7 linked regions of the Homo sapiens genome follow. The protein of the gene in region 4 purifies or fractionates together with the protein of the main gene of each other region. This does not show direct contact. Each region holds a gene or a part of one and is shown on either strand. Other genes may lie near its edges.

What was found.
Region 1: the proteins of KYNU (region 4) and PPP4R3B fractionate together in Homo sapiens (co-fractionation; one large-scale study listed by BioGRID). This does not show direct contact.
Region 2: the proteins of KYNU (region 4) and PSME4 purify together in Homo sapiens (affinity purification with mass spectrometry; one large-scale study listed by BioGRID and IntAct). This does not show direct contact.
Region 3: the proteins of KYNU (region 4) and SLC60A2 purify together in Homo sapiens (affinity purification with mass spectrometry; one large-scale study listed by BioGRID and IntAct). This does not show direct contact.
Region 5: the proteins of KYNU (region 4) and PALM2AKAP2 fractionate together in Homo sapiens (co-fractionation; one large-scale study listed by BioGRID). This does not show direct contact.
Region 6: the proteins of KYNU (region 4) and ACAT2 fractionate together in Homo sapiens (co-fractionation; one large-scale study listed by BioGRID). This does not show direct contact.
Region 7: the proteins of KYNU (region 4) and PSAT1 fractionate together in Homo sapiens (co-fractionation; one large-scale study listed by BioGRID). This does not show direct contact.

What each region holds. Positions count from the first base shown.
Region 1 is NC_000002.12:55,557,952-55,562,354, forward strand, and holds part of PPP4R3B (serine/threonine-protein phosphatase 4 regulatory subunit 3B), read right to left. Parts: intron 1,018-4,403; coding exon 824-1,017; intron 1-823. UniProt on the Homo sapiens protein: Regulatory subunit of serine/threonine-protein phosphatase 4 (PP4). May regulate the activity of PPP4C at centrosomal microtubule organizing centers.
Region 2 is NC_000002.12:53,866,264-53,870,378, forward strand, and holds part of PSME4 (proteasome activator complex subunit 4), read right to left. Parts: intron 3,276-4,115; coding exon 3,113-3,275; intron 618-3,112; coding exon 484-617; intron 1-483. UniProt on the Homo sapiens protein: Associated component of the proteasome that specifically recognizes acetylated histones and promotes ATP- and ubiquitin-independent degradation of core histones during spermatogenesis and DNA damage response.
Region 3 is NC_000006.12:111,261,784-111,266,186, forward strand, and holds part of SLC60A2 (sodium-dependent glucose transporter 1), read left to right. Parts: intron 1-473; coding exon 474-642; intron 643-2,046; coding exon 2,047-2,163; intron 2,164-4,092; coding exon 4,093-4,403. UniProt on the Homo sapiens protein: May function as a sodium-dependent glucose transporter. Potential channels for urea in the inner medulla of kidney.
Region 4 is NC_000002.12:142,960,974-142,965,376, reverse strand, and holds part of KYNU (kynureninase), read right to left. Parts: intron 1-4,403. UniProt on the Homo sapiens protein: Catalyzes the cleavage of L-kynurenine (L-Kyn) and L-3-hydroxykynurenine (L-3OHKyn) into anthranilic acid (AA) and 3-hydroxyanthranilic acid (3-OHAA), respectively. Has a preference for the L-3-hydroxy form. Also has cysteine-conjugate-beta-lyase activity.
Region 5 is NC_000009.12:110,157,474-110,161,876, forward strand, and holds part of PALM2AKAP2 (PALM2-AKAP2 protein isoform 3 (PALM2-AKAP2)), read left to right. Parts: intron 1-4,403. UniProt on the Homo sapiens protein: Binds to regulatory subunit (RII) of protein kinase A. May be involved in establishing polarity in signaling systems or in integrating PKA-RII isoforms with downstream effectors to capture, amplify and focus diffuse, trans-cellular signals carried by cAMP.
Region 6 is NC_000006.12:159,768,095-159,772,497, reverse strand, and holds part of ACAT2 (acetyl-CoA acetyltransferase, cytosolic), read right to left. Parts: intron 3,988-4,403; coding exon 3,870-3,987; intron 1-3,869. UniProt on the Homo sapiens protein: Involved in the biosynthetic pathway of cholesterol.
Region 7 is NC_000009.12:78,299,669-78,304,071, forward strand, and holds part of PSAT1 (phosphoserine aminotransferase), read left to right. Parts: intron 1-933; coding exon 934-994; intron 995-2,285; coding exon 2,286-2,355; intron 2,356-4,403. UniProt on the Homo sapiens protein: Involved in L-serine biosynthesis via the phosphorylated pathway, a three-step pathway converting the glycolytic intermediate 3-phospho-D-glycerate into L-serine.

The sequences.
Region 1 (4,403 bases), about 87 Mb from region 4:
CATCGACAATAATATAATCCAATTTGCAGAGAAGAGCAGATTCAAAAGGCTAATATTTAGCCTTACTACTAATAGAGTATACACGATTGGAAATGAGATATTATATACTGTCTCCCCTACCTAACTGGCAAATACTAAAAATAATTATAGCACTGGCAAAGCTGCAATTGGCCACGCACACTCATACACAGTTTATGGTAACATAAACTGGCATAGACTTTATGAAGATGAATTTGACCGTATGTGTGAAGACGTTCTACTACTAAACTATCCAAGAAAATAATTTAAAATGCAGTAACACTAAGTAGTCAGTGAAATATTAGAATCAACTTAAGTGCTCCAAAATAGAATGGGGGACAGGGAGGAAGGATGCTTACATTTATTATCATAAGCCTAAATAAAATGAAATTCTCTTTGAGAGGCCGAGGTGGGCGGAACATGAGGTCAAGAGATCGAGACCATCCTGGCCAACATGGTGAAACCTCGTCTCTACTAAAAATACAAAAATTAGCTGGGTGTGGTGGCACGCGCCTGTAGTCCCAGCTACTTGGGAGACTGAGGCAGGAGAACTGCTTGAACCCGGGAGGCGGAGGTTGCAGTGAGCTGAGATCACTCCACTGCACTCCAGCCTGGCGACAGAGTGAGACTCTGTCTCAAAAAATAAAATAAAATAAAATAAAATTCTACAATCAACATTTTGGTAACAGAAAAATTCTAAACAATTCATTGAAATTGTTTTGATTATCCAAATTTTTTTCAGTAAACATGAAAAAATCTCACAGACGGGAAAAGCAAAGTTTGTGTGTAATGCTGTTTCACCTACCTTGGTGGCTGTTACTGACGTAGGCAAGTTTGTGGTTTTGGAAGAGGATCCATTAGAAGTTGCTGGTGGTATCTGAGCCACTACAGATTTACTGTTTGTTCCATTAGCAGCACTGGCAGAGTGGGAGAAAGTAAATTTGAAGCCACCAGGAGATGTCCTTTTGGGAAGGTTTTCCTTGTCTTCACTTTCTTTTGCTAAAGCAAAAGTAAAATTTTGAACGTATATCAATAAATACTGCTAAGTCAAAACATCTAAAAACAGCAGTAATTAAAAAACTTATAAAACATTGCTGCCCGGGCATGGTGGCTCACGCCTGTAATCCCAACACTTTGGGAGGCTGAGGCAGGCAGATCACCCAAGGCCGGAGTTCAAGACCAGCCTGACCAACATGGAGAAACCCCGTCTCTGCTAAAAATACAAAATTAGCCGGGTGTGGTGGCGCATGTCTATAATCTTAGCTACTTGGGAGGCTGAGGCAGGAGAATCACTTGAACCTGGGAGGCAGAGGTTGTGGTGAGCCGAGATCGCACCACTGCACTCCAGCCTGGGCAACAAGAGCGAAACTCCGTCTCAAAAAAAACCAAAAAAACAAAAAAAAATAACACCAAAATTAATTGCCTTTGTTTCCTAAGAACTTTTGAAAAAGAACATGATGTGTACAGTGATGATATGGTCTGGCTCTGTGTCCCCACCCAAATCGCAAATCAAATTGTAATCCCCACATGTCAGGGGAGGGACCTGGTGAGAGGTGACTGGATCATGGGGGTGGATTTCGCCCTTGCTGTTCTTGTGATAGTGAGTTCTCACGAGATCTGGTTGTTCCAAAGGGTGGCACTTCCCCCCTTGCTCTCTCTCTCCTGCTGCCATGTAACACATGCCTTGTTTCCCATTCACCTTCCGCCACAAGTTTCCTGAGGCCTCCCCAGCTATGTGGAATTTTAAGTCAATTATACCTCTTTTCTTCATAAATTACAGTCTCAGGTAGTTCTTTAGAGCAGTGTGAAAACGAACTATACAGAAAATTGGTAACAGGAATGTGGTACTGCTATAAAGATACCTGAAAATGGCAGGGCGCAGTGGCTCACGCCTGTAATCCCAGCACTTTGGGTGGCTGAGGAGGGTGGATCACTTGAGGTCAGGAGTTCAAGATCAGCCTGGCCAACATGATGAAACCTATTCTCTATTAAAAATACAAAAATTAGCTGGGGGTGGTGGTGCACACCTATAATCCCAGCTGCTCTGGTGGCTGAGGCAGGAGAATTGCTTGAACCCTGGAGGCAGAGGATGCAGTGAGCTGAGATTGTGCCACTGCCCACCAGCATGGATGACAGAATAAGACTCCATCTCAAAAAAAAAGATACCTGAAAATGTGGAAGCGACTTTGGAACTGGGTAATAGACAGAGGTTGGAACAATTTGGAGGGCTTAGAAAAAGACAGGAAGATATGGGAAAGTCTGGAACTTCCTAAAGACTTGTTGACTGGTTTTGACCAAAATGCTAACAGTGATATGGACAATGAAGTCCAGGCTGAGGAGGTCTCAGATGGAGGTGAGGAACTTATTCGGAACTGGAGTAAAGGTCATACTTGGTATGCTTTAGCAAAGAGACTGGCGGCATTTTGCCCCTGCCCTAGAGATCTGTGGAACTTGAACTTGAGAGAGATGATTTAGGATATCTGGTGGAAGAAATTTCTAAGCAGCAAAGCATTCAAGTGGTGGCCTGGGCTGGGCACAGTGGCTCATGCCTGTAACACCAGCACTTTGGGAGGCTGAGACAAGCGGATCACGAAGTCAGGAGTTGGAGACCAGCCTGGCCAACAGGGTGAAACCCTGTCTCTACTAAAAATACAAAAATTAGCTGGGCGTGGTGGCACACACCTATAGTCCCAGCTACTTGGGAGGCTGAGGCAGGACAATCAGTTGAACCTGGGAGGCAGAGGTTGCAGTGAGCTGAGATCATGCCACTGCATTCCAGCCTGGGCAACAGAGAGAGACTCCATCTCAGAAAAAAAAAAAAAAAAAAAAAAAAAAAAAAAAAGAGGCCTTCTGGCGGTTTCTAAAAGCGTATGCTCATATGCATGAAGAAAGAGATGGTCTGAAATTAGAATTTATATTTAAAAGGGAGCAGAGCATAAAGTTTGGAAAACTTGCAGCCTGACCATGCAGTAGAAAAGAAAACCCCATTTTCTGGGGAGAAATTCAAGCTGGCTGCAGAAATCTGAATAAGTAACAAGGAGCCAAATGTTAATTCACAGGCCCAGAGGCCTAGGAGGGAAAAATGGTTTTGTGAGCTGGGCCCAGGGCCCTGCTGCTCTGTGCAGTCTTGGGACACCCTGCATCCCAGGTGCTGCAGCTCCAGCCATGGCGAAAAGGAGCCAAGGTACAGCTTGGGCCATGGCTTTAGAGCGTGCAAGCCCCAACTCTTGGTGGCTTCCATGTGACACGGGGCCTGTGGGGTAGAGGCAAGAACTGAGGTTTGGTAACCTCTGATTCTCAAACCACCTAGATTTCAGAAGACATATAGAAATGCCTGGATATCTAGGCAGAAATCTGCTGCAGGGGCAGAGCTCTTATGAAGAACCTCTACTAGGGCAGTGCGGAAGGGAAATGTGAGGTTGGAGCCCCCACATAGAGTCCCCACTGGGATACTGCCTAGTGGAGCCATGAGAAGAGGGCCACCATCCTCCAGACCCCAGAACAGTAGATCTACCAACAGCTTGCACCATGCACCTGGAAAAGCCACAGGCACTCAACTCTAGCCCATGAAAGCAGCCATGGGGGCTGTACCTGGCAAAGCCATAGGGGCGAAGCCAGCCATGGCCCTGGGAGCCTACCTGTTGTATCAGCATGCCCTGGATGTGAAACATGGAGTCAAAGGAGATTATTTTGGAGCTTTAAGATTTAAAGACTGCCCTGCTGGGCTTTGCACTTGCCCAGGGCCTGTAGCCCCTTTGTTTTGGCCAATTTCTTCCATTTGGAATGGGAGCATTTACCCAATGTCTGTACCCCCGTTGTATCTTGGAGGTAACTAACTTGTTTTTTATTTTATAGGATCACAGGCAGAAGGGATTTACTTTGTCTCATATGAGACTTTGGACTTGGACTTTTGAGTTAATGCTGGAATGAGTTATGGGGGACTGTTGGGAAGGCATGATTGGTTTTGAAATGTAAAAAGGACATGAAATTAGGGAGGGACCGGGGTGGAATGATATGGTTTGGCTCTTGTCCCCACCCAAATCTCATTGTGAATTGTAATCCCCAGGTGTTGGAGGAGATGACTGAATCATGGAGGCAGAAAACCCCCTTGCTATTTTTGTGATAGTGAGTTCTCACGAGATCTGGTTGTTTCAAAGTGTGTGGCACCTCGGCCGGGCTTGGTGGCTCATGCCTGTAATCCCAGCACTTTGGGAGGCCAAAGTGGGTGAATCATCTGAGACCAGGAGTTCAAGACCAGCCTGGCCAACATGGTGAAACCCCATCTCTATTAAAAATATAAAAATTAGCTGGGTGTGGTGGTACATGCCTGTAATCCCAACTACTTGAGAGGCTGAGGCAGGAGAATTGCTTGAGCCCAGGAGGCA
Region 2 (4,115 bases), about 89 Mb from region 4:
ACAACCAGGATCATATGTAGGATACTTTTAGTTAAATTACCGTCCCTCTAGACTTCAGATCTCACACAATACCAAGTTCTACAAAACCAAAAAGCCAATGAGAAGGACAAAGTGAATGGTCTTTTGAGTTACTAAAAATGCCATCATAATTTCCTATTTAATATTAGCTTCCAGTAAAATACTTTGCAGTGCTAGAAAAATAGAAACATAAAATTTATCACAACAATATTGACAGTACTTTACTTCCATTGGACTGGGAGGGATAGAAGCTACAATAATTTCCTCACTACCAAAAGATCTCAAATATCCATGGCAGCAAGGTCTCTGTAATTTTTTAATAATTACTGGTGAGCAGACTAAGCCTTGGCAGAGGCAGCAGCTTTATGAAAGCAGTTAGTTCAGAGTGTATAGGAAATTATTATTATGGTTTCTTAGAAAACATCACTGATAATACACGTACAAACTAATAAGGAAGAACTGTACCTCAATAGGCTGAGGATCATTTAGATGTGCACTGAGATTCATGAGGAGCTGGGGCATCCAGGTGGGAACATCGTAAGGACTAGAAAGAACACATGCACCAAGTCCTAGCACCCCAGCATGGCGTTTGACCAACTCTGCAAAGAGAATAGCAACATTTGTGCAAATATATATATGTCTCTAATGCACTTGTTACAGTGAGATAAAATTAGTTTTCAATTGTGTTGTTTTCAATATGTGAATTTCTGCATTTAAAATGAATCTACATGTAAACACATCAAATACTTGATTTTGAGGCTAAACTAAAAATAATTCTGTATTTAAGAATTTGTCAGCTGGGCACAGTGGCTCATACCTGTAATCCCAGCACTTTGGGAGGCCAAGGTAGGAGGATCACTTGAGGCCAGGAATTTGAGACCAGCCAGGGCAATAAAGTGAGAACCTGTCTCTCCAAAAATAATTTTTAAAAATCAGCTGGTGGCCAGGCATGGTGGTTCATGCCTATAATCCCAGCACACTGAGAGACCAGGGCGGGTGGATGACCTGAGGTCAGGAGTTCAAGAACAGCTTGGCCAACGTGGCGAAACCCTGTCTCTGCTAAAAATACAAAAATTAGCTGGGTGTGATGGCATGTGAAGTCACAGATACCCAGAAGCTGAGGCATGAGAATCATTTGACCAGGGAAGCAGAGGCTGCAGTGAGCCAAGATCGCACCACTGTACTCCAGCCTGGGATACAGAGTGAGGCTCCGTCTCAAGGAAAAAAAAAAAAAAAAAAAAGCTAGGCATGGCAGTGCATGCCTGTGGTTCCAGCTAGACAAGAGGCTGAGGCAGGAGGATCGCTTGAGCCTGGGAGGTCAAGGCTGCAGTGAGCCATATTCAAAACCACTGCACTCCAAGGAGGGCGATAGAGGAAGACCTTACCTCAAAAAAAAAAAAAAAAAAAAAGGATTTTTAAAGACTTCCATAGTTGCTTATCAATGACAGCATAATTGTACCTAGGCCAGTACAATCCCTGATTCTAAAACAATCTCCAATCAAAATTAGCGTGGTTTTTTTTTTCTGGATGTGACGCCCCTACCCAGAATACATCAATTCATTAGTAAACACATCATGTATGAAGAATGTCTATTTCTTAAAACAGAGAATTGCAGCATGTCTGTATTCTAAAGAGTCTCTATTCTTTCTGTAGTAGTGTAAGTTAGTTCTGTAGTGGTGTAAGTGGTTTCAAATTCTCAGTTCCTCAATAAAGGTGTGTGTATTCACATGTTTTAAAGCATATTACATTTGTATTTGTGACACATGGAAAATAGGGAGTTGAAGGTAAGGAAAAGAGAATTTGGACTGGTCAAAATTGTGAACAATATCATTTGGTGTAACAAAAGACCTAAAAATACTTTGGTGCTTTATCATTAAAAAAACAGAGTTCTCAGGCCAGGTGCTGTGGCTCACGTCTGTAATCCCAGTATTCTAGAAGGCCCAGGTGGGTGGATCACTTGAGGTCAGGAGTTCAAGACCAGCCTGATCAACATGGTGAAACTCTACTAAAAATACAAAAAATTAGCCAGGTGTAGTAGCGCGCGCCTGCAATCCTAGCTACTCGGCTAACAGGGGCATGAGAATCGCCTGAACCCAGGAGGTGGAGGTTGCAGGGGGCTGAGATCATGCCACTGCACTCCAGCCTGGGTGACAGTGGAAGATCCTGTTTCCAAAAAATATATATTATAAAATATATTTATAATATATATATATATGATATATATTATAAAATATATTTATAATATATATAATATATATTATAAATATATTTATAATATATATAATATATATTATAAAATATATTTATAATATATATATAATATATATACATACATATATATATCCCAAAAAGCAAAGATACTAGAATGTACATTGATATTTTATTGGATTCTGTTACTAGGTAACTTTATGACATAATTAAGACACTAATCAGCAGTAAAAGCTTTATATTTAAGCACTTCCTCTAAATTCAATAAAATTCCTACTTACTATTAATCTTTTTATGTATTTTCTATTATGATTACAGTTAACATGGCAAGATGCATCTTTGTAATCACATTTACATTTCTTTTTAAACATGACATAGTAGTCAGATCTTATTCTCGTGTTTATCTTGTGTCTATATTCAATTAGATTGGAAGCTCCTGCAATGACTCCGCACCCTCTCACCAAAGGACTAATGAAGGACCGAATAATCCCCTCTCCAAATAAAAAACAAGGCTTGCTTTAGTTTTTTCTGTTAGTACATCTACATTTAAGTTCTAAATTCCAAAACAGGTTTTTCAGACCCTCCAAAATAACTAATTCTGAATATCTCTTTTTTATGAAGCTATTCTGGGCGGAGGGTAGACTGAATACAATAGTTGTTAGGTAGCAGTTCTACAGGTTCCTTTCTATCTACCTCAATTTTAGCTTTTCTACATTCCAAGTCCTGCTTTCTATATGCAAAACTCCTCAAAAGTAGGGAAAACTTTTCCCAATACCTAGCATAGACCTGGGCACATACATACAAGTTATTCAATAAATATGAGTAAGCCTGGTTAACCCTCATTAATTCCCAATAGGATACAGGTGTTTCCTACCAGCAATGTTACCTGCAGAAGGAATGGTATCTCCTACAGAACCAGGGTCTCGCTTTCTTTTCTTAGGTAGTTTTGTTTTGCAAAGTTGCTCAAAATGAATCTGCATAGGACTGTCCATGGTAAGAAAGTTACACTGTAGCAGACCGCTTAAGGTAGTAGCAGCCATTTCTCGAACCTGTAGATATAATAATTTCTATTAGGACTGACATTCTAAGTCTGAGGGAATAATGGAGGATAGGGGGTAGTGTGGGAACTGGGGTGAAGACCTTCCCTGAAATTGCATGCAAATTTTGTGTATGCTCTTTGGCAGTTTCTTAATAGAGATTTCAGCAGATTCTCAAAGAGTTTGTGGCCTCATAATGGATAAAAACTACATTAGGGTTATGAGCATAAACTTTTATCTCTTTTAGCAAAATTAAATTTCTCCATAAATTATTTTCCCTACTGATAGCTCTCATCAGGGCTATAACTGTAAAAGCAGTGCCAGAACCTGACATTAAGATCAAGTTTTTCCAGACTCTACATCTCTGAAGGCCACTGCTATAGCTATTTTTGTTAGTAACAAAGACACAGACCAACCTAATTTCTGTAATTGGCATACATCATGGAGACTTACATCCTATGTGATTCTTATGAATTTCACAGGCTGCTGTCAGATCACAAACACAGTTTACAAAAGTACTAAATGAAGCGTGTACACAGTCCATTTCAAATTGGAATGGTAACTCAACTTTTGGGAAAACAAAAAAGCGGTAAAAAGACATTGTTTCACATATAAATCACAAACATTTGTTTAATATTCATAATACACAATGATAATTTTAAAAAACAGATGTTTTGCTCTGTTGTATTCCTTCAAAAGGTTTCTCATAATTTTATCATCGTCTGTCGAGTACGTAACATGTTCTTTGCTGCGTTCATTACACTAGCATATGAAATACATCATAAAATGTTTTACTGGTTGCACTATTTCCTATAAAGCTTATATGCCACAATTTCTTTTCTTTTCGTTTTT
Region 3 (4,403 bases), on a different chromosome or scaffold from region 4:
GGGTTTCACTGTGTTGGCCACGCTGGTCTCAAACTCCTGACCTCGTGATCCGCCTGCTTCGGCCTCCCAAAGTGCTGAGATTACAGGCGTGAGCTACTGTGCCCGGCCAATTTAAATTTTTAATACCCAAATTCTTATTTGTGCATGTAATATATTTCAAAATGTACGAAACCATTTCAAAAATAGTTTTAATATTACATTTTATTAATACAGAATAGTCTTTTAAAGGTATTGTTCAGAAAGGAAACAGGATTGCAACAAAAAAATAATTTTTTAAAAACTGAGAGGTGTCAAAACAAAAAAAAAATAAGAGTTTTAGTCAAAACTAAAAAAACAGTAGTCTAATTCCCTACATTACATTGTAAATCCCAGACCCTCCGCCCCCCTTTTTTTTTATAGTGGAAGAAACTACCACATAGTTAGACATTATTTTAATGATTATAAGTAAAAACTTTTGTCTTTTTAAATTTTAGGGATTGAGTGTTGCTATAGTGGGACCCACGTTTCAAGATTTGGCAACAAACGTGAACCGAAATATCAGTAGTCTGTCTTTCATTTTTGTGGGTCGTGCCTTGGGATATTTGAGTGGCTCTGTGATTGGTGGATTTCTTGTCGATGTCATGAATTATTTTTTACTTTTGGGTAAGTAAATGCTAATTTTAGCTTCTTTATGACTGTCAAGTGAATTTACAAGTTGTCTTTGAAAATATGAAAATACTAGCATGCAGAATGGTTGGCCACTGAAATGGGTAGTGTTTAGGTGTCCTCAATGGCAGTTGAGTTTCCCTGGTACCTGCTTTCATCTTGACAGTTAGAGGGTATCTGTGCTGGGTCCCTCTGGAAATTTAGATTAGCTCTAGAGTGTCTTAGCAATCCTTAGCCTTTCCAACCACTATAATTTAGCTACCACTCCTGGATCACACACTGGTTGTCCAAAAAACTCTGCTTAGAGGGTTTAGGGCAGATTTCCTGGGGTCACCACAGATCAGAATGAGCTCTTTGAACCTGCCCAGGCTACACCCTGGATTGGGAATGAAGAGGGGAAGCGAGGTTGGGTGGACTGATGTAGGCTATGTTTTTGTTCCTGCTGCCCCATGTTGTCGTTGGACAACCCCAGAGTGCTCTGTCTCACCCTGGAAATAGATGGCAAAGCTGCTTTTTTTTTTTGAGACAGGGTCTCCTCTCCCTCTATTGCCCAGGCTGGAGTGCAGTGATGCGATCTCTGCTCACTGCAACCTCCCCCTCCTGGGCTCAAGCGATCCTCCCATCTCAGCCTTCCAATTAACTGGGACCACAGGTGTGAGCCACCATGCCTGATTAATTTTTGTGTTTTTAGTAGAGCCGGGGTTTCACCATGTTGCCCAGGTTGGTCTGGAACTCCTGAGCTCAAAGGATCAGCCTCCCAGAGTATTGGGATTACAGGTGTGAGCCACCACGCCTGGGCTGGCAAAGCTTTTAGCATATACTTTTTTTGAATAAATTGAAATATTTAGAGAAAATTTAGATTAATATGATAAAATTGTTTTGGAAGCAAGAATAATTTGTTATTGTTAAGGAATTAATAAATAATCCCTCTTATTTCCAAAGTGGGTTGAAATAACATATTTCTTGTATTTTCCTCCCTATTTCCCAAACTAATTTATTTAGTAAATTTTATTACAAACTACTCTAGTAATTGCATTTTATTTTTGTCTATTTAATTTTTTGCCTCATGTCTAAAAATTCCTGTTAGGTTCTTAAATGTGAATCATTTAAATTAGTTTTGGCTTGTCTCTTTTGGTATAAAACTTTGCCTTATGGTATAATTTACAGTTTGATTACTAGCAGTGCTTTAAATGTATTTGTGTTATAATTATTTATATTTCATAATCCATAAAGATTATAAAAGATTCAAATGAAATAATCACTTTTAGAAGCAAAAACTCTCATCTACTCATTATCTAATTTAAATTTGACCTGATTTTGCATGTTTGGACATTTATGATATTGACTTGATCCATGACTGCATGGATATTATTTTTTATAGCTGAGTTTCTACCTTCCCAGGAATCTCAATGTCGGCTACCACCGTTGGTCTTTATCTTGTTCCTTTTTGCAAGACAGCAATATTACTCACTGTCATGATGTCTATCTTCGGTGTTTCAATTGGCATTCTGGATACAGGTTAGTGAGCTCTTCAACGTCATCTCTGGGAGTAGGGACTTGCTAGAAGAAGTACAGCAGATGATACTAAACTGTCACTTGCAATGCCCCCTAAAATGACACAGACCTACTGAGTTGGTTGTGAGTCACTCAGAATGAATCACCCTTCTAGCAGCTATTCTTGCCAATTAGGGGGCCTGTTTCTGAGCAGCCAACTCTGAAATGAACTTAAAGAATTTTGTTCTATGAGAGATAATTGATTTACATTGTCCAAACAGGGAAGGGCCCCTGTGTGGGTAATTACAGTGCAGGTGAATAGGCCTTCATCTTGGGGTAGAACTTTATTGCTCTAGTATGGGAGGAATTGGTGGTTTAATAGGTTAAACCAAGTTTGGAACTGTTATTTGGCTGAGAAAGCATAGAAGCAGCAATCCAACTTGACATTTACCCTGACTTCCAAGCCAAGAGAGATCCATAGTGTGGACTAGGCTCTTTCTTTTTCTTTCTGTCCTCAAAGTTCCTGGCCTCCTGCAGTAGATTCTTTCCCGTATCATCATCATGTCTTTTAAAACTTACTAAATAGGCCGGGTGCGGTGGCTCACACCTGTAATCCAGCACTTTGGGAGGCCGAGATGGGTGGATCACGAGGTCAGGAGATCGAGACCATCCTGGCTAACACAATGAAACCTCATCTCTACTAAAAATACAAAAAATTAGCCGGGTGTGGTGGTGGGCGCCTGTAGTCCCAATTACTCGGGAGGCTGAGGCAGGAGAATGGCATGAACCCAGGAGGCGGAGCTTGCAGTGAGCAGAGATCACACCACTGCACTTCAGCCTGGGTGACAGAGTGAGACTCCATCTCAAAAAAAAAAAAAAAACCTACTAAATAACGGCGGGGTGGCTTACGCCTATAATCCTAGCACTTTGGGAGGCTGTGTCGGGCAGATCACCTGAGGTCAGGAGTTCAAGACCAGCCTGACCAATATGGAGAAACCGCGTCTCTACTAAAAATATAAAATGAGCCAGGCATGGTGGCGCGTGCCTGTAATCCCAGCTACTCAGGAGGCTGAGGCTGGAGAATTGCTTGAACCCAGGAGGTGGAGGTTGCAGAGAGCCACGATTGTGCCATTGCACTCCAGCCAGGGTCTCAAAAACAAACAAACAGAAAACCTACTAAATAACATAGATGACATCTGTTTACTCCTAAAACCAGCTTTCTACCCCTCCCTTCCCTGCTTTGCTGTTACGTGATCTGTTGAGGAAATATTTTATTTTACTTTAGGGTTAATTTTGTTATGAAATTATAGGGTAGAATTATATATTTATCTGAAAATATCTGTTGAAAAAAAAGAAGATAGCTCAAGATGTGCTGCTTCTTGCCTTTCTCCTCCTAGACGTTTAGACAGTATAAATTCAGATGCTAAACGGTGTCCTTGTTTCCTCTAATGGGCATACCAGAATCCTGGCTATTCAGGTTCCTGGACGTGTGTTTTGCATCTGTTACATACATAAGTAAGTAATTTTCCTCAAGTGGCTACCAACAGCAAGTACAGAAAGCTTTGGTAATTTGGCTACTATCTGATGATAAAATTTTGCCTTTTAAATATATATTTAAAATATTAATATATAAATATTTCTTCTGCAGTCTGATGTTAGAACTGTATTATAAAAAGCGTCTTGCTAATGTGCTTGGTTCTAGGAGGTAGTAGTCTACTAGACTGTAGAATTCGATTTGTGAGTATGTGATGTTATAATGCTTAGAGTTGTCTGGTGGTAGTGGGTTAGAATTCCTTTCTCAGAATTGATTTAGTTGCAATGTTTGATAATTAGAATATTATAATGCTTGTGCTATGTAAAATAGACTCACCCCCTTTCTGATAAGTGAACTTTTTTTTTTAATAAGTAAGTAACTGTTTAACTTAAATAATTTTTCCCATCTTTCATCGACAGGTGGTAACGTCCTTATCTTGGCTATTTGGGGGGACAAAGGAGCCCCACATATGCAGGCCTTACACTTCTCTTTTGCCTTGGGTGCCTTTTTGGCTCCACTGCTAGCTAAACTGGCTTTGGGTCCGACAGCGTCTGCTGAAAACCACACAGAGTCTGACTTCCATCCTGCACTCAACCAATCATCTGATGCTGACTCAGAAGCTCTGTTTGGAGTACCTAATGATAAGAATTTACTGTGGGCTTATGCTGTTATCGGTACTTACATGTTCTTAGTTTCTGTCATTTTTTTTTGTCTGTTTTTAAAGAATAGC
Region 4 (4,403 bases):
CTGAAAACATTCATCTTTGATTCAGAAATATTAAAAGAAAGACAGACCCTGAAAGGATGAAATTAATAAGAGATAGGTTAAAAAGGTCAAGAACAGAAAAGCTGAGTGTACTGGTCCAGAAAGATGGTGACATGATGATACAGTAGAGACATCTTGTGGATGACACAAATCTCTTTGGAGCATATTGATCCCAAGGTACATATAGGACATCCGGATGTAGTGGGAAGATGCAGGCTATTTCCTATTGTATGAGTAGCCTGGAGTCTGCACTTGACAGTGGTAGCTGAATTATGGCAGTGGTTAAAAATCACTAGAGATACAATGCAGGGGACAATCAGAAACATCTACAATTAGTGGGTGTAGGAAAGAAGTTCCTAGTAGAAACAAGTAACAGAATATGAAAAATATAGAAACATGGAAGTAAGACAGAGCTCCAAAAAGATGGGTTGGCACATCTTCATCTTGAAGAAGCATCTTCAAACTGATGTCTCTTGCCACATGCTGGCCTTCCCTTGTTATTGAGCTCTCTAACCTGTTTTCCTTGGCCTCCCCCACTTGCTACAATCTCAGGCCTCCTCAGTTAAGAAAAGCCTCAGTATCTTAAATCTATTGTGTGAATCAAAGTCATATTATCAATTGTTCTTTTTATTAATTAGTTTTCTTCTTTGATGACCACTTGAAATCTTGTATTTTCTCTCTCCTTCAAAATCAATTTCTATACCACCTACAATCAAACCAGGAAAAGAAAGCTAACCATATAGAAATATGGGCAAGACACTTGAACAAGCATTTCATAAAAGATATATAGAAAATCAACAAGTATTTGGAAGATTCTCAATCTTATCAATAATCAGGGAACTGCAAAATAAAACTGCCACGCATTACCACTGCAAACTACTTAGAACAGCTAAAATTATAAAGACTGAAAACAGTAACTATTGGTGAAGCTGTAGAGAAACAGAAAGTCTAATATATGCTGGTAGAAGAACAACTTTTTTGGAGGATTGGCATTATTGATTAGAAATAAATATACAAATACCTTATGGTTCAGGAATTCTAATTCTAGGTATATACTTAACAGAAATGTATATGAATGTATACCCCCCAAAATTTATGTGAATATTTAGAGTAGCATGTATTATTATATTAGTAGTTCTCAAATGAAAATAAAATCCAAATATCTACCCTAAATAAAACGGAAAAAACCTGTGATCTATTTCATACTATGTAAAAATACACTGAAATAGAAAAAAAAAACAAACAAAAGTACTGCTAGGTACTGCATGAATGAATCTCACACATATAAAAGTAGCAAATAAGCCAAACACAAAAAAAAACTTTATAAAAGATGAGCATCTAAAATCCCAAATTCAGAAATCTGAAAGGCTCCAAAATCCAAAACTTTTTGAACACTGACAGAATGCTCAAAGAATAAAAATTTCATTGGAGCACTTGAGATTTCCAGATTTGGTGTGTTCAAGCAGTAAGTATAATGCAAATATTCCAAAATCCAAAAATATCCAAAATACTTCTGGTCCCAAGTATTTCAGGTAAGGAATATTCAACCTGTGTATACCTTCATATAAAGTTCAAAACTAGACAAAATAATGCATTTATATAAAGTTCAAAATGGACAAAGCTGACTATGTGGTTAGAAGTTAGGGGAATTATAAATTTGAAAGGGGGATGCTACGGTCTAAATGTTGGTCTCCCCAGACCCCAATTTTATATGTCACAACCTTATACCCAATGTGACAGTATTAGGAGGTCAGGGCTTTGGAAATGATTAAGTCATGATTAAGTGATTCCTCATGAATGGAATTTGTCCCTTTGTATTAGAGGCTCTAGAAAGCTCCCTTAGCCCTTCTGCCATGTGAGGAAGGGCAAAGCAACAAGGCGTCATCTGTGAAACAAACAGCAGCCCTAAGCAGACACCAAGTCTGCTGGCATCTTGATCTTGCACTTCCCAGCCTCCAGAACTGTGAGCAATATATTTATGTTGTTTTTAAATTACCCAGTTTAAGGTATTTTGTTATAGCAGCCCAAGTGGACAGAGACAGAAGGTAACAGGTAGTATTTGGAAGAAGACACGATTGAGGATTCTGAGTATTGGAAATACTTTTTTTTTCTTGATGGGGTGATGGTTATAAGGCCTCAAAATAACTCATGAAGCTATTTGCTTATGATTCATGCTGTTTTTGGTATACATACATTTCTTAAATTAAAATATTTTTCACAATTTCTGTTTCTTCTTCCTTATCACATGACTATGAAGATTTTACCTCAGAACCTCCTGATTGACTCTCATTGCTCCATCCCACCATCATTTTGTATTCCCACCATGCTTTATTTCTGAAAACGTTTTTTTGCCTCACATGTCCAAATCTACCAGTGACTGTGTCATGCCCTTTGTTCTTAGAATTTCCTATCTCTTTCTTGATTGACACCTTTAATTTCTTCTCTGCCTCTCTCTTCAGTTTTATTCACAGATGACCAGACCACCAGAGAGACCTATCGAAGTCTACATTTCAAAGAACTTTGCCTCACCTTGGTTGATAATAGGAGGAACTACAGCAAGAGGGTAAAAATTTGTTAGAATAATCTTGATAATGGATAAATCTACATCTGCTATATCCCCATTTGATTCCCATAGTATTGATTGCTTCTTCATAGTTACACTTAAAGCTGCTCATTCCTACCTTCATTTATTTGACTGAGAGTTCTATGAGACTAACTTGGTAGGCATTTACTATATTTTTTAAGTTAAAGAAAACCTGCAAAACATTTAACAAATGGCTTTAGCAATCAAAGTACTTAAGTATGAGATTTACTTATAAAACCTAAAGTAAACAAATTTATTTTGTGTTTCAATGGGAAACAAAAGAAAGTGTCTCTCAACCACTTTATAATATCATATTAATTGAGAAGAGTAGAAAGGTAAGGAAACCATCATTTAATAGCAGAATGTGTGCCAATCCATTTGGTGTTTTATATTCATCATTCTCACACTGAACCTGTAAGGTGGGTGCTGTTATGTTAAATTAGCACTTTTAAAGCGAGATGTCAAGTAACTTGCTCAAGATTGTGTAACAATTAAATGACCTAGCCAAGATTTGAACCTCAGATTGTGTGATGGAAACCCATGGTCTTTCTTCTGTATCTTGCTGTCTCATGTCTAGGAAGGTTAATGAGACATACGTGTATACTAAGGAAGCAGGGACTGCTGATTACTTGCATAACATTTTAAAATATGATTTTTTATTGGCCTCCCTTTATTTTGGTGCTTAACATTTAACATCTAAATTAAGAAGACATTATCTTTATATCTTTTGTAATGCACCACTTTCAGAGTTATCCGTCAAAGCAGTTGGAAGTCGTTGTTAGAAATTCCTAGAGACTGCTGATAACAGTGCTAAATATATTTTAATTAGTTCCATTCATTAGCTTCAATAACTGAATATATTAACTAGATCTCACATGTATATTAATCCCATAACTTATTAATGTTCAGAATAAAATTCAATTGTCACATTTTTAAATACATGGCTTGATTGCTGAATGAAATAGAAGTGCTATTTAAAGATTTTAAACACAAATTGTGACTGTTGAATGTTGCCCTTTTTTTTCAAATAAATACTAAAAACACTTTTTACAAACACTTACATACAAAGAGACATGACTTCAAAACAATTTAACTGTGATTTAGTAGTGGGTAGGAAAAAAAGCTCTCATTACAGGCAGTATAAAAAATTTTCAAGAGTCTTAGGAATAAAATGGCCTCCTTAAAGTAACTTGTATAAAATTTGATCTACTGATAAAATTGAATTCTGCATTTCTTCATCTTTAGATACTCAGCATTAAGTGAAAACTCATTTATAGAGTGATTTATAGTATGACAAAGTATGAGTTGAATTTTTAATAGACCTAGCATGTACTTCCTATCTTAAGTATTTTGTCTGCTTCCTGGTGACTGACCAGCTGAGTACCAATGGCATCACCTACAGCTTGCCTGGCCTGCTGACTAGAGGCAAATGCACAGAGCAGCTGCTACTAAGGAGGTGAGACCACAGAAGTGGCAAAAAAAAAAAAAAAAAAAAAAAAGCAGTTTAAATAGAGATGCCTGAAGCAAAAAAGATTACAGATTTTCTTTTAAAAATGTAAGATTTACTCGCTTTTTTTTTTTTGAGATGGAGTCTTGCTCTGTTGCCCAGGCTGGAGTGCAGGGGCACGATCTTGGCTCACTGCAATCTCCACCGCCCGAGTTCAAGTGACTCTTCTGCCTCAGCCTCCCGAATAGCTGGGATTACAGGTGCCCACCACCATGCCCAGCTAATTTTTGTATTTTCAGTAGAGATGGGGTTTCGCCATTTTTGTCAGGCTGGTCTCAAACTCCTGACCTCGTG
Region 5 (4,403 bases), on a different chromosome or scaffold from region 4:
TTGCAGCCTCGACCTCCTGGGTTCAGGCAATCCTCCCGCCTCAGCCTCCTGAATAGCTGGGACCACACGCGTATGCCACCATACCTGGCTTATTTTTTAACTTTTTTGTAGAAAGGAGGTCTCATTATGTTGCTCAGACTGTTCTTCAACTCCTGAGCTCAAGGGATACTCCCACCCCAGCCTCCTAAAGTGCTGGGATTACAGACATGAGCCACTGCACCCAGCCTGCCTTTCACTCTTGAAAGTGTCCCAGTTTGGGTGATAAACCATCTGGTCACCTTAAACTTGAATGCTATGAAGTTCACAGTAAGAATTCCCTGCTGTTTTATTGCCTTTTATATCCTAGCTGGCTAAGTTAAAGGATTTCTGGAGTTGAAGCCCAGATGCTGAAAGTTGCTTTCAAAATATATGGCGGTAAAGAAAGGAAGAAAGCAAATGGATATCTGGCAGCCTGGCTTCTCACTTGGCATCTCCCAGGCTTTCCCTTTTGTTTACACCTGAACTGCGTGGAGCACTGGCTCAGCTGCTGTATTAGGCTGCAGCTATTCTACTGGGCTCTTCACTGTATTAGACAGTGGGATGATGCCCGGCCCTGGGTAGCTGCTGCAGACATTTCCACTGCTGAACCTCACTGTAGGGGAGCCAGCAGCTCCTTTCGTGAGCCTGCAGGATTTTTCCCTGGCTACTCAGTCACTTTCACCAGCCCTTCTTTGAAGCCCCACTTCAAAGGATAAAGTTTGCCTTAAGAATTTTCTGAAAGTTAAATCATTTTGAAACTTGGTGCTCTAGGTGTCTGGTTTCTTTTCTCCCAGTGACTCTGCTCTATACATCAGCAGTTTTGGTAGAATTTAGCCAAGTGGGTGCCCCACACTCTGATGTGGATGGGGAAGAACAAGTAGAACCACTTAGCATGTGACCCACGCGAGTGTTTGCTGAACACACTCTACTTGTCACTTGTGTATGTCTTTTGTGTTGGAGTGCAGATGATAGGGAAAAATACTCCATACAGAAGGGTAGAGGCAGTTCTCACTCATTTCGTAAAGGCAGAGGGCTGGAAGCTCTTTTGTGCACACGCTGACACTCTGGCAGCCACCTAACAAATGCCAACCAGGTTGAGTTTTTCCTCTGCATGAATGAAGCTGCTTGGAATCAGCGTTTTAATATGCTGATTGCCCTTCACTTACAAATCAAAGAGGCAGCCTCCTGTCTCTATATTTTCCAGTAAATAAACATTTTGAAAAAGAAAGAGACCTAACTAATTAAGCTGTTAATATCCCTGGATCTTGGATTCAAAGCCAAATGTTTTGCACTGTTATTGCTATTACAACAGAACCAAGTTTGCTGTTGTTGAAAATTCTTAGGATCAGGACAAAATCTACCAATCCACTATATGCTCATTTAAGAGACCCAAATCTAAAACAACAAATTCAGATTGCTTCTAAAGCAAAGATATGATCATCAGTCAGGCTTCAAATGAGAGCCTTCTCCTAGCCCTTCCAATTTAGGGGACCTTTTCTCCTGTATCTGTGTCAATCACTGGTGAATGTGTTGAAGTTTACCTGTAGGGATGAACAAACATTCATTTTTTTCCTAACCAATCTGTGGCCCCTTTTCCATTTTTTCTTTTTCTTTAATACCAGAAGGATAGTAATAGAGAGCAGATGGATTGCTGGGGGGATGAGTTGTGTAACTGGCTTACCTATCCGTAGAAGCATAAAGTTAATTCTCTTAAAGGTAAAGTAATTCTGGTCTCTAGCCTCCATTTACATACACTATTCTCACAGAGAAACATGGCTTCTTAGACTCTCCACCCTCTAAGCACCTCAGTGGCTCACACCTACACACCCAGCATCTCCCCATGTTATGCAGCATCACCCCTGGCACCTCCATTTGCCAATATTTTTTCCAGTAAGCCACTTGGCAGCATTTTGGCATGCCGTTTTGGAGATGATAAACCACACCTGAGAATCAATGCCTGTCGCGTGATTAGAACACAACCATGTGTTTGCCCATCGAAAGTAACAGTTATTTGTGAATTGAGCAAAAATAATTCTTATTTTTTATTCTTTTTAAGGAGAAGGCAGAGTTAAAAACAAGACAGGCGCTGATCATTGGAATGTGTATAAAGTGTGATATGTTAGACACAATGGTATCGAGGAGAGTGAAAGACAGAAGGAGAAAGATAGAATGTAGCTACGGCTGAAGTTTTGCTGAGTGAGAAAAACTGATCTTTGCCATCAAAACAAGTTCAGTGTCCCCCGAGCCCCCATCAGGGGTGTGGTGGCCTCTGGGGTCCTGTCCACAGGGACTCAGCTCAGGGCCCTGCTCTCTCCAGTTTTCCACTTTATAAAAAGTCATATGCAGAGAGGCCCCTGGCTTATGGGAGTCAGGGAGTGGTGTTATCCAAAGGTTGTCCCCAACCAGCCATATTTGTTACTAGCTCAGAACTTGAGCAAAGTACTCCCTTTAGTTGCCACAGTCTTCACCCACCTGGGCTGATTTCTTTGTCCTGTATATTGGAGTCACCAATGAGTATCTCCAGCCTCACTTATTAATGGACCTCTTGGCTAATTCTGAGGGCAGGAGGATTACCATCCCCACCCCTACCCACTTACCCAAGGCTGTTTACCAACCTATGCAAGGCCTTTGTGTGAATTAGGAAAAAAAACCACCCTTGTTCCTCTATGAAGATATGAAGATGCAGCCCTGCACCAGCCACACATTTGGGGGGTAGAGTAGGGGACTGGGCTTTAGTACCATTCATCCCTTTAGTCTGATGCTTTTGTGCAGTGCACACAACACACACCCAGATGCAGCAATCCTATTCATATTGTGGGTTTCTCTTATCTGGAAATGTTCTCTTATGTGGAAATGTCCACTTATCTGGGTCTCATACCATTTCTGCTCAGTCATGCAATTCATAATGGACTAGTGAATCCTAGTTTCCTAAAGGGCTTCTTGATGCCTTGCAAAGCGACTGCCTCCAAGGTGGGGTTGCCCACTCATGGACCTGGAAGACATTTGGATCAGTGGGCACAAATGATGGGCTATTTGGATGTTTTTCCTTCAGGCATGAAGAACCCCTCTAGGAAACTCTGATTCATTAGTCCATCCTGAGTGACATGACTGTATTTAGGCAAACAGTATTTTTCCAGCCAATTGTTTCCCTAACCTGACCTGAGCCTCAGAAAGTGAAGATGATGGGTCATTGAGTCAATGATGCTCATGAACATCTCGAGGGTTTGCTTTGCCTTTCTCAGTTGAAGGGATGCTGACCAGAGTCCAAATCACAGCCTCCTGGATGTTCAGCCCCATCTTTACTTTTAGCGCAGGATCTGCCCTCAGTGGGGTTTTCCAGTGTGCTCTCTCTCTCTTTCTCATCCCATGACTTCATTACTGAGAGGTCATCCAACCACTCTGTCTCATCTTAGAACAAGAGAAGACCTCGTCGGTTTTCCTGGGCTACGTCAAAGCTGAGAGTTCCTGGCACACATTACCCTTCCAGACCAGGACATGCATTGAGAGTTGTGGCCATACTCTCGCTCAGTGTGTGAAGGAAGCCTATCTGCCTCCTGTTTCCCCAGACGCTACAGGAAGCTCAGTGATGCCTTGTGCTTCCCTAACTCTCTCTTACGTTCTCACTCGTACCCTAGTGAAGATGCAAAGGAGAGAGAAGAGCTCCTGACTTGTCAGCTCCCAGCCATTAGCCCAATCATGACAGAACTATAATTCCTAAGTGCTACATATAAGAAGCAGTCAGCAATCACAGATGTGTGATCCCACCTAACTAGTCTATGGCTATCAATGCCCCAAACCAATAAATGCTTTAAATGCCCCAAGCAGTGTAAATGTACGCTCATTACCATAATTCTGGAGAGGGATGTCCCAAATTGGTCCTGCCATCTCATTTTCCATAGTCAGGCCATTTTTTTCTGTACTTTGAGTAAGACTTTTAGTCCCCTATAGGAACTAAAGGATCATTTCAGTTCCTAAGTGCTCATACTAATAATCCTATATAATCACCAGAAATTGCTATCAAAGGATGATCCCACTCTCAGGAACTTACCCAGGCCCCCAGGGTTCTGACGAGGGAGGCTGTGTGGTCTCCCTAGGCAAGACTACCCTTAGGCCGGTTTCAGAGAATCTGCCTCCACAAACCAACTGCTGTGATTAGGATCTTCTTTTAATGGAACAACAGGTTACAAGACGGCTTTGGGGTTCAGAGAAGCCTACGGGAAGAGAAAAGGCTATTTGGCTACAGACTCTAGCAAATCCAAAATGGCCCCCAACGACCTTGCTGGTGGGCAGCTGATTGTGTACAGAGGGGAAGGAATCTTGTTAATTCAAAGTACAGAAACTGAAAGCAACGTTTTGAATTAACAAAGTACGGCTTATCTGATATT
Region 6 (4,403 bases), on a different chromosome or scaffold from region 4:
AGCACCATTTGTTGAAAAGACTTTAATTTCTCCATTTCATTCCATTGATGCCTTTGTTGAAAACAAGCATAAGTCTGGGTCTATTTCTGAACTCTGTTCTCTTTCTCTGTCCTTATGCCAAAACCACATTGTCTTGTTTACAACAGCTTTATAGGTAATGTTAAAATCAGAGCATGTAAGTGCTATTTTCTGACTTCAAAATTGTTTTGGCTATTCTGAGTGCTTTGCATTTTATACAGTATTTATTTACACTATTTATTTATTTATTTAGAGATGGAGTTTCATTCTTGTTGCCCAGGCTGGAGTGCAATGGTGCAATATCTCAGCTTACTGCAACCTCCGCCTCTTAGGTTCAAGCAAGTCTCCTCCCTTGGCCTCCAGAGTAGCTGGGACTACAGGCACCTGCTGCAACACCTGGCTAATTTTTTGTAGTTTTAGTAGAGATGGGGTTTCACCGTGTTAGCCAGGATGGTCTCAATCTCCTGACCTCATGATCCGCCCGCCTCGGCCTCCCAAAGTGCTAGGATTACAGGCGTGAGCCACCGCGCCCGGCTGGAAGCTATTCTTTTGTTGTTGTTGTTGTTGTTGTGTCACTATGTTAACCAGACTGGAATGCAGTAGATACTCACAGGTGCAATCATAGTAGACTATGATAGCATTGCCCAGGCTAGACTCAAACTCTTGGACTCAAGCAATCTCTTGCCTCAGCTCTTGAGTAGGTGGGACTACAGGCACATACCACCATGCCTGGCTCCTTTAGTATTTCTTGTAGTGTAGGTGTGCAGGCAATTCATTTTCCTTCATCTAAAAATGGCTCTTCACTTTCACTCTTGTTTTTTTTTTTTTTGAGACAGAGTCTCACTCTGTTGCCCAGACTGGAGTGCAGTGGCATGATCTTTTTTTAACTTTTTGCTACAATTTGCTAAGGTGTAATTTTTCCCTTGTCTATCTTGGTCTTTGAACTTCTTTTCACACCAAATGTGGAAATTTTCTTCAGTTTTTTTCTGCCCCATTCTCTCTCTTCCTTATGTATGAGATTCCTATTCCATGCATGCTAGTCCTATTTATTTTGTCCTGCAGACCACCAAGGCTCTGTTCATTTATATTTTATTTTTTTGAGACGGAGTTTCATTCTTGTTGCTCAGGCTGGAGTGCAATGGCGTGATCTCAGCTCAACGCAACCTCCGCCTCCCAGGTTCAAGCGATTCTCCTGCCTCAGCCTCCCGAGTAGCTGGGATTACAGGCATGCGCCACCAGCCTGGCTAATTTTGTATTTTTAGTAGAGATGGAGTTTCTCCATGTTGGTCATGTGGGTCTCAAACTCCCGACCTCAGGTGATCTGCCTGCATTGACCTCCCAAAGTGCTGGGATTACAGGCATGAGCCACCACACCTGGCCTATTTTTTAATTTAATTTAATTTAATTTAATTTTTTGAGACAGAGTTTTGTTTGTTACCCAGGCTGGAGCGCAATGGTGTGATCTCAGCTTGCTGCAACCTCCACCTCCTGGGTTCAAGCTATTCTTCTGCCTCAGCCTCCCAAGTAGTTGGGATTACAGGCATGGGCCACCACATCCAGCTCATTTTTGTATTTTTAGTAGAGACAGGGTTTCCCCATGTTGGCCAGGCTGGTCTTGAACTCCTGACCTCAGATGATCTACCCGGCTTGGCCTCCCAAAGTGCTGGGATTACAAGCGTGAGCTACCGTGCCTGGCCTGTTCATTTATTCTTCATTATTTTTCTCTGTGTTCTTCAGGTCGTGTATATGATCTATCTTCAAACTTCCTGACCCTTTTTCTTCTGTCTCCAAGATGCTGTTAAGGCCATTCAGAATTTTTTTTTCTTTTTTTTTAGAGATGAGGTCTAACTATGTTGCTCAGCCTAGTCTCAAACCCCCAGCCTCAAGTGATCCTCCCACCTCAGCCTCCCAAGGTGCTGGGATTACAGGTGCGAGCCACCATGCCCGGCCCCATCCCAGTGAATTCTTAATTTCAGATTGTGTACTTTGCAAGTTCTAGAATTTCTATTTGGTTCTTGTTTATATTTTTTCCTTTTACTCCTGAGATGTCCACATCTATTCCTCTATGAAGATTATATTTTCCTTTGTATCTTTAAACATATGTAAAATAGAGCCTTTAAGATCCTCATCTGATAATTCTAGTATTGCAGGGTCTGTTGACTGTTGTGGTTTTTTTCCACCCTGGTTGTAAGCTATATTTTCCTAATTCTTTGTGTATCTAGAAAGTTCTCATTGCATGCTGAACATTATAGTTGCTACATAACTGGACATAGAGATTTTATTATCTTTAGAGAATATATTGAGTTTTGTTTCCACAAGCAGTCAAAATACTGGCAAATCACCTTGATCCTTTTGAGGCTTGTTTTTAAGCTTATTAGTTTGGGTCTAGAGTAGCTTTTACTCTATGGCTTTGGCCCTACCCCTAAACTGTGGTCTTTCTGAGATGTCAATGGAGTGTCCAAGGAGTTCAGTAAGGTTTCCACTCGCTTGTCCAGAACTTTTATCTCCTAGTAATCTATAAAATCTCCAGTTCACCTCTCCTTTGCAGCTCTTTTCTACTAGGCCTTGTAAGCTGTTATCTACAAGCTTAGTATTTGATCAAAGACTTAAGGGGAACCTTTTGCAGATTTCTGGAGCTCTTTTTTTCTTCTCCCCCTTATTCTGCCCCACAAACTCCAGCCATCTCAGAAGCCCCAAATTCTCTGCTTCTTCAGATCACTGAGACCACTGTTTCCAGCTTAGGCTCTGCCTCTCCATAACACAGTTTGGGAAGTGCCCTGGGTAGAGACAGTGACAGTGGGGTTTTCCCTTCTCTCAAGGATCTCAGTCTTACATGAGTATTAGTCAAAACCTGACATACATAAAACAGTGGCTTTATATATTTTCACAAGTTTTATGCTTGTTTATAGTAGGAAATCTAATCTTTGTCAATTACTCCATCATGACCTGAGCCTTTTTTCTTTTCTTTTTTTCTAAAGAAGAGCAATTTATTTTCTTACAGTTCTGGAGGCTGGAAGAGTACCATTCAATCCACAGTACACCTTGGAAAGGGCTCGGGATCTGAATTTTTAATGACCACCTCTAGTTATGGTTGAGGCAGTTGGTCACACAGTGTCTTCCATTGTCTGCCTGTGTTTTTATAGCCTTCTCTGTTGTGGCTGTAAGTCGAGAAGTGGTCAAGATGCCTTGAGCTTCTCATTGCTTCCCATATCCCTAAGCCCTTCCTTCCTTCCTAGCATTCATGCACACAGTTCCCTCTTGGAATCTTGTACTTTTCCCCATTACCTTTTTCACATATTTATGTGTTACATAAAACCAGAGCCATTGCTGCATGCATTTGAGCAAGGTGCTTAACTTCTCAGGGTTTGATTCTTTAACTCTAAAATGTCTATTCTGTTTCTTAAGTTTTACATGTATACTAAAGACAAGAGTGCTTTTGATTTCCCAGTTGCTTTGCCATTAAACTTAGACCACAGGACCCTTCAGCATGAATGACCAATAACCCAATTGTGTAGTACAAAAAGTACAGCTAGGTACCAAAAAAACAACTGGTTTATCTCTGTCACTACCTCTGCCACAGAAGCACTATTTGTGGGCCCTGTTTCTTCATTTGGTAAAATGAGGGGTTGATCCAGAAGAACTCTGAGGTACTTCCCACTTCTAACATTCTCTGATAATCAAGAGTTCACAAAGAAGAGAATACTTACTTCACTTCAGTTAATCAAAGAAGAGATATAAAAATCCTTAAGACAGTCTCTGGCCATAAGGACGAAAGCACCTAAGAAGCAGATTAGTATATGGTCTTTTTAACCTTTTTAAAGCTAATACAGTTTCAGCCATGTCTGCCTTACCTGTAATACCCATATGACAGTTGTGAAATGCATCTGTAAGACCATCACAGAGTATACTGTCAGTCAGTGGCATCTCACCTATCTTTACTCCTGTTCTCAAGTAAGCCAAGTGAGGAGCCTAGAAGTCAGAAATAAAAATGGATTTAGGCTTAGTTGCAATTAGTCTTCTCCCCAGAATACAACTCAAAACTATCTAGTATTTCCTAAGTCTTCATCTAGGCCCCTTTGCAGCCCTTCTCCCCAGTTCTAGGTCCTCAGCCAGGCCAAGGTCTAAAGACCCCTGGAATTAGCAGACTTCATCTTTCCTATTGTTGGGAACGATTACTCTCCTACCTACCCATTTTCAATTCTCCCTCAAACCTACCCATTCTGTGTCCTGTTTCCTTAAGAATTCCATTTATTCTTTCCATCGAGGCAATTAATTATCTGTTAAATGAAGAAATCCTCTAAGGGCTTAAGTAAAGCTAACAATGTGTTACCTATTTCAATGGATGACATAATGTCTACAGTGAGAATAATCAGGCTAACTAAATG
Region 7 (4,403 bases), on a different chromosome or scaffold from region 4:
AGCCCAGCTAATTTTTGTATTTTTAGTAGAGACGGGGTTTCACCATGTTGGCCAAGATGGTCTCAATCTCTTGACCTCATGATCTGCCCGCCTTGGCCTCCCAAAGTGCTGGGATTACAGGCGTGAGCCACCACGCCCGGCCTTGTCTAATTCTTTATTGTTAAAATACTGTTTTTTGAGACAAGTTGCAATCCAGTTTAGGTTATAGCTGTGTTTTAATGATGCCCTCCTTAGCAAGCATCTTAAAAAAAAAGGTGCCTCCTATCTGTAGACCTTCTCTGGCTGGTTGCTTTTGCACTTATTTTGTGTTCATTTTTAAAGCTTTTCTTTTTCTCTTTATTTTTTATTAAGGGAATCCTCACATACACAAAGATAAAAGTAGTGTAATGAACCTCCAAGGACCCATCTCTGAGACTCAACAATTATCAACATTGTGCCAGTCTTGTTGCAGCACCCTGGGACGAATCTTATTCACAGCAGGCTCTTCCTTCTTCCTGCCCACCCCACGCTTCCCAGTCTAGCACCTTAGACCAAAAGAGATCGGAAAATTGAGTTACCTGTATAATCTGGGCATAATTTTTTTATCGTTGTCCCTTTAACCCAGAACTTTATGCATTCTTTACTTTAGCTTTAGGAGAGTGGTGAATGAGATTTGTGAAGGGGACATTTTCTAGGGAATCGGTAAATTCGGGCCTTTGGAAAAAGTGTATCAACATCAGTCACATTGCCTAATTTCATGCTTACCTTGTGTGTAAGTTGCATAATCGCTGGCTTTGTGGACATGGGAAGGAAGGAGACTGGCTGTGGGTGGGGATGGAAGCCTGGGGACCTCACTGTAGACCCTTCCTTGTCCCCTCGTCAGGTTTGTATGTTCAGAGGGAAAGCAGTGCAGAACATATTTAAATAACCCTATTTTCCTTTATTTTTTTCTAGGTGTTGTTAGAGATACAAAAGGAATTATTAGACTACAAAGGAGTTGGCATTAGTGTTCTTGGTAAGATTTACTTTTGAATTCTGTGAATGTCCATGTTTCAAAGGAAGCTTTTTTTTTTTTTTTTTTTTTTAGAGGCAGGGTCCTGCTCTGTCACCCAGGCTGGAGTACAGTGGCGTGATCATAGTTCACTGCAGCCTCCAACTCCTGGGCTCAAGTGACCCTCCTGCCTCAGCATCCTGAGTAGCTAGGACTATAGGTACACATCACCACACCTGGCTAATTTTTTTTAAATGTTTAAAACATTTTTTAAAGATCCCATGAGATGGGATCTCACTTTGTTGCCCAGGCTGATCTGAAACTCGTGGCCTGAAGCCATCCTCCCACATTGGCCTCCCAAAGTTTTGGGATTACAGGCTTGAGCCACTGAGCCCTGGCCCAAAGGGAACTAATTTAAATGCATCAAATATAGAATTACAGGGCCTATAGGGTCTTCCTATAGGCCTTTATAGATACATTTTTAAACTTTAATAGCTTGGGTTGCATGTCTGATAGAAACCATTTTGAAAATAGCATAAATGCTGGTGAGAGGTTCTGACATCTCAGCTTACCCTGTCATAATTGGTTTTTGCTAATCATAGGATTTAGGATCAGAAGATACTGTATATTTGCATAACAGTGCCTCCAAACATTTATAATATTGCTTTACATTCAATTTACAGTTTTTATTATACTTAAATACAACCTCATTAAAGTTTAAAAGTACATAAGCCTTTTATGAAGACCTCGCACATTGATAATCTTATTAAGTTTCCCCTATATTTTTTGGGAAGAGGACCTCTGCATTCTAAAACTTATTTTCTTTTATTTTTGGCGGTTCTGAAGACTGCATGGTATTAAGAGACCATAGGGTTAACTATATTGCTTATTTCTGTTAAATTTTGCTCCTGTTGGTTTGGGACATATACTTAGATTTCTGTGAAGTGAGATCACAGCATGGAATTTTGTGCTCCAGACCTAAAGGGCAACTGTTGCACATGGATTCCTGTTTGTGAGAAAGAGATGGTAAGAAGAATCACAGAGAGCATCACGGAGTGATGAATTAATAAATAACTTGCTCAGTGAATGTACCACTTGAAAAATCCTTCTGCCATGACTATAAAGCTAAAATGTTTGCAATTTGAAAATCAGTTTGTATGGTCCCCTAAACTAAGTGAGCCTTGGCCCACAATTTGAATGCAGAATAACTGAAATTTCCCTGTATTGTTGTTTACTTGCAAATTTCGTAGGTATTTCTGTTCATTTGGTTTTGAGCTGGAATATTTGTTATTGTTGTTTATCTTTCCTTTCACAGAAATGAGTCACAGGTCATCAGATTTTGCCAAGATTATTAACAATACAGAGAATCTTGTGCGGGAATTGCTGTAAGTTTTAAAAAGACCAAATCATGTTACTTTTGTTAGATACTTCCTAAATCTGGATGTCTTCCAGTATTTTCTACACTCTATTGTTTGTTCAGAATATTTCATAATTTAAAATAATCCTTGTAAGATTCTCTCCAATTCACTATTAGTACCTAACGCTTTTTATTTGTTCCCCATCCCGTGTTTATATGTTTTTGTTTTTATTTTATGTGATATTTCCAAAGATTTGAAATCATTGTATCTAGGAATGATTTTTCAGCACTGTGGCAGTTAAACTGGTGTGAAAGAGATGTAAATGACACAGAAATGGTCATCTTTGTCAGCATAATTGACTATAAACTAGTTCAGGTGTTCTCGAAGTTTGAGTCTCATACGATCTGTCAGAGTCACCTGGTTAGGGGGAATATTAAAAAATTCAAGTGGGGCCGGGCAAGGTGGCTCATGCCTGTAATCCCAGCACTTTGGGAGGCCGAGGCGGGTGGATCGTGAGATCAGGAGATCAAGACCATGCTGGCTACCACGGTGAAACCCCATCTACTAAAAATACAAAAAAAGAAAAAATTAGCTGGGCATGGTGGCGCATACCTGTATTCCCAGCTATTCGGGAGGCTGAGGCAGGAGAATCGCTTGAACCAGGGAGGCGGAGTTTGCAGTGAGCCGAGACCGTGCCACTGCATTCCAGCTTAGGTGACAAAGCGAGACTCCGTCTCAAAAAAAAAAAAAAAAAAAAAAAAAAAATCAAGTGGTGGGCACCACTTAGTCCTGCTGAATCAGAATCTCTGGAGAGACTTTATTTTTAACAGGCTCTTTGGGTAATTGTAAGAGTTCTGAACTGTAGGAACTACTGCTTAGACGAAATCTCCTGGGTTATCTGTACTGCCTTTCCTATCCAGAGAATCCCTTATTCTTAAATAGATTGCTATTTAAAGGAGAGATTTTTATATATTATATAAACATGTTCACATAAACCTACGAATATAGCAAGTTTGAAAGCATACCATTTTTTTTCCTGCTCACAGAAATAATGCACATTTATGGTAGGAAAAACACTGTAGCTCACAACTAAACTGAAATTAACTTTAACCCCACTAATCAGGGATAATCACTAATATGTTAGGACCCATTCTTGCATTATTACATTAACAAAATTGGAATTATACTGATTATTTCAAGTTTTCTTTTTCAAATTGCTTGATAAAATGATTCAGATGGGGCAGGCTTGGTGATATTTCTGTGAGGAGCTGTAGACGCTAATTGCAATGTGAATGTTCAGAGCTGGTAGCCATCTGCTTGGCTTCTCTCGTCCATTGGCCTGCTGAGTATCATGTCACATTCATAGGACAATCCTGTCCTTCATGGAGTGGGTATTTGGAACATCAGCCTGGGAGAGATGACATTTGACCACATGGCTATGAACTTCCTCTGACTGGGGTCCCAGTTCAATTTAAGGGCCTATCTTTTCTTCTCCTAACCTGGTTCCCACCTTGTATACCTGTACCTAGACCTCGGCCTGGTTTCTTTCCATCTAATTCTTGGCCTTGTTAACTGCCCTGCATCTGAATAATGTGAACCTGGAACTCTGTCTTGGGTTATCAGTCTTCCCAGCTGCTAAGAACCTCATGGCCAGAGTCTCCTAAGACCTGCTGGTTGCTTGCTATCCTACTAAGCACTGAATATAGGCCATACATCTTTCAGGACAAGATATTTACACTCCTACCACCCCATTCCCCAAGACCCTGCCACATTGCCCTGCCCTTTATTAATTTACCTCTGTATCTTTGCTGGAGCTCTGTTCCCTGGCCATCTGGCTTCCGTACACCTATTCCCAGGCTCTGACCTTACTCAGTGGCTTGGGTCCAGTTTCCATGGCCTTGTCCTTTTGGAGCTGGGCTTATTTCTACTGCCTGTAGCCATTCTCATCATTATCTTACTTTTTCATCCTGGAGTCAAAGAATTTTGCTTTTTATTTTGATGTATAATAGATACATGATTTCATGGGTAGGCCTAAAACATTATCGAAACCCCCTGCCCAACATCCACCTGGTTCA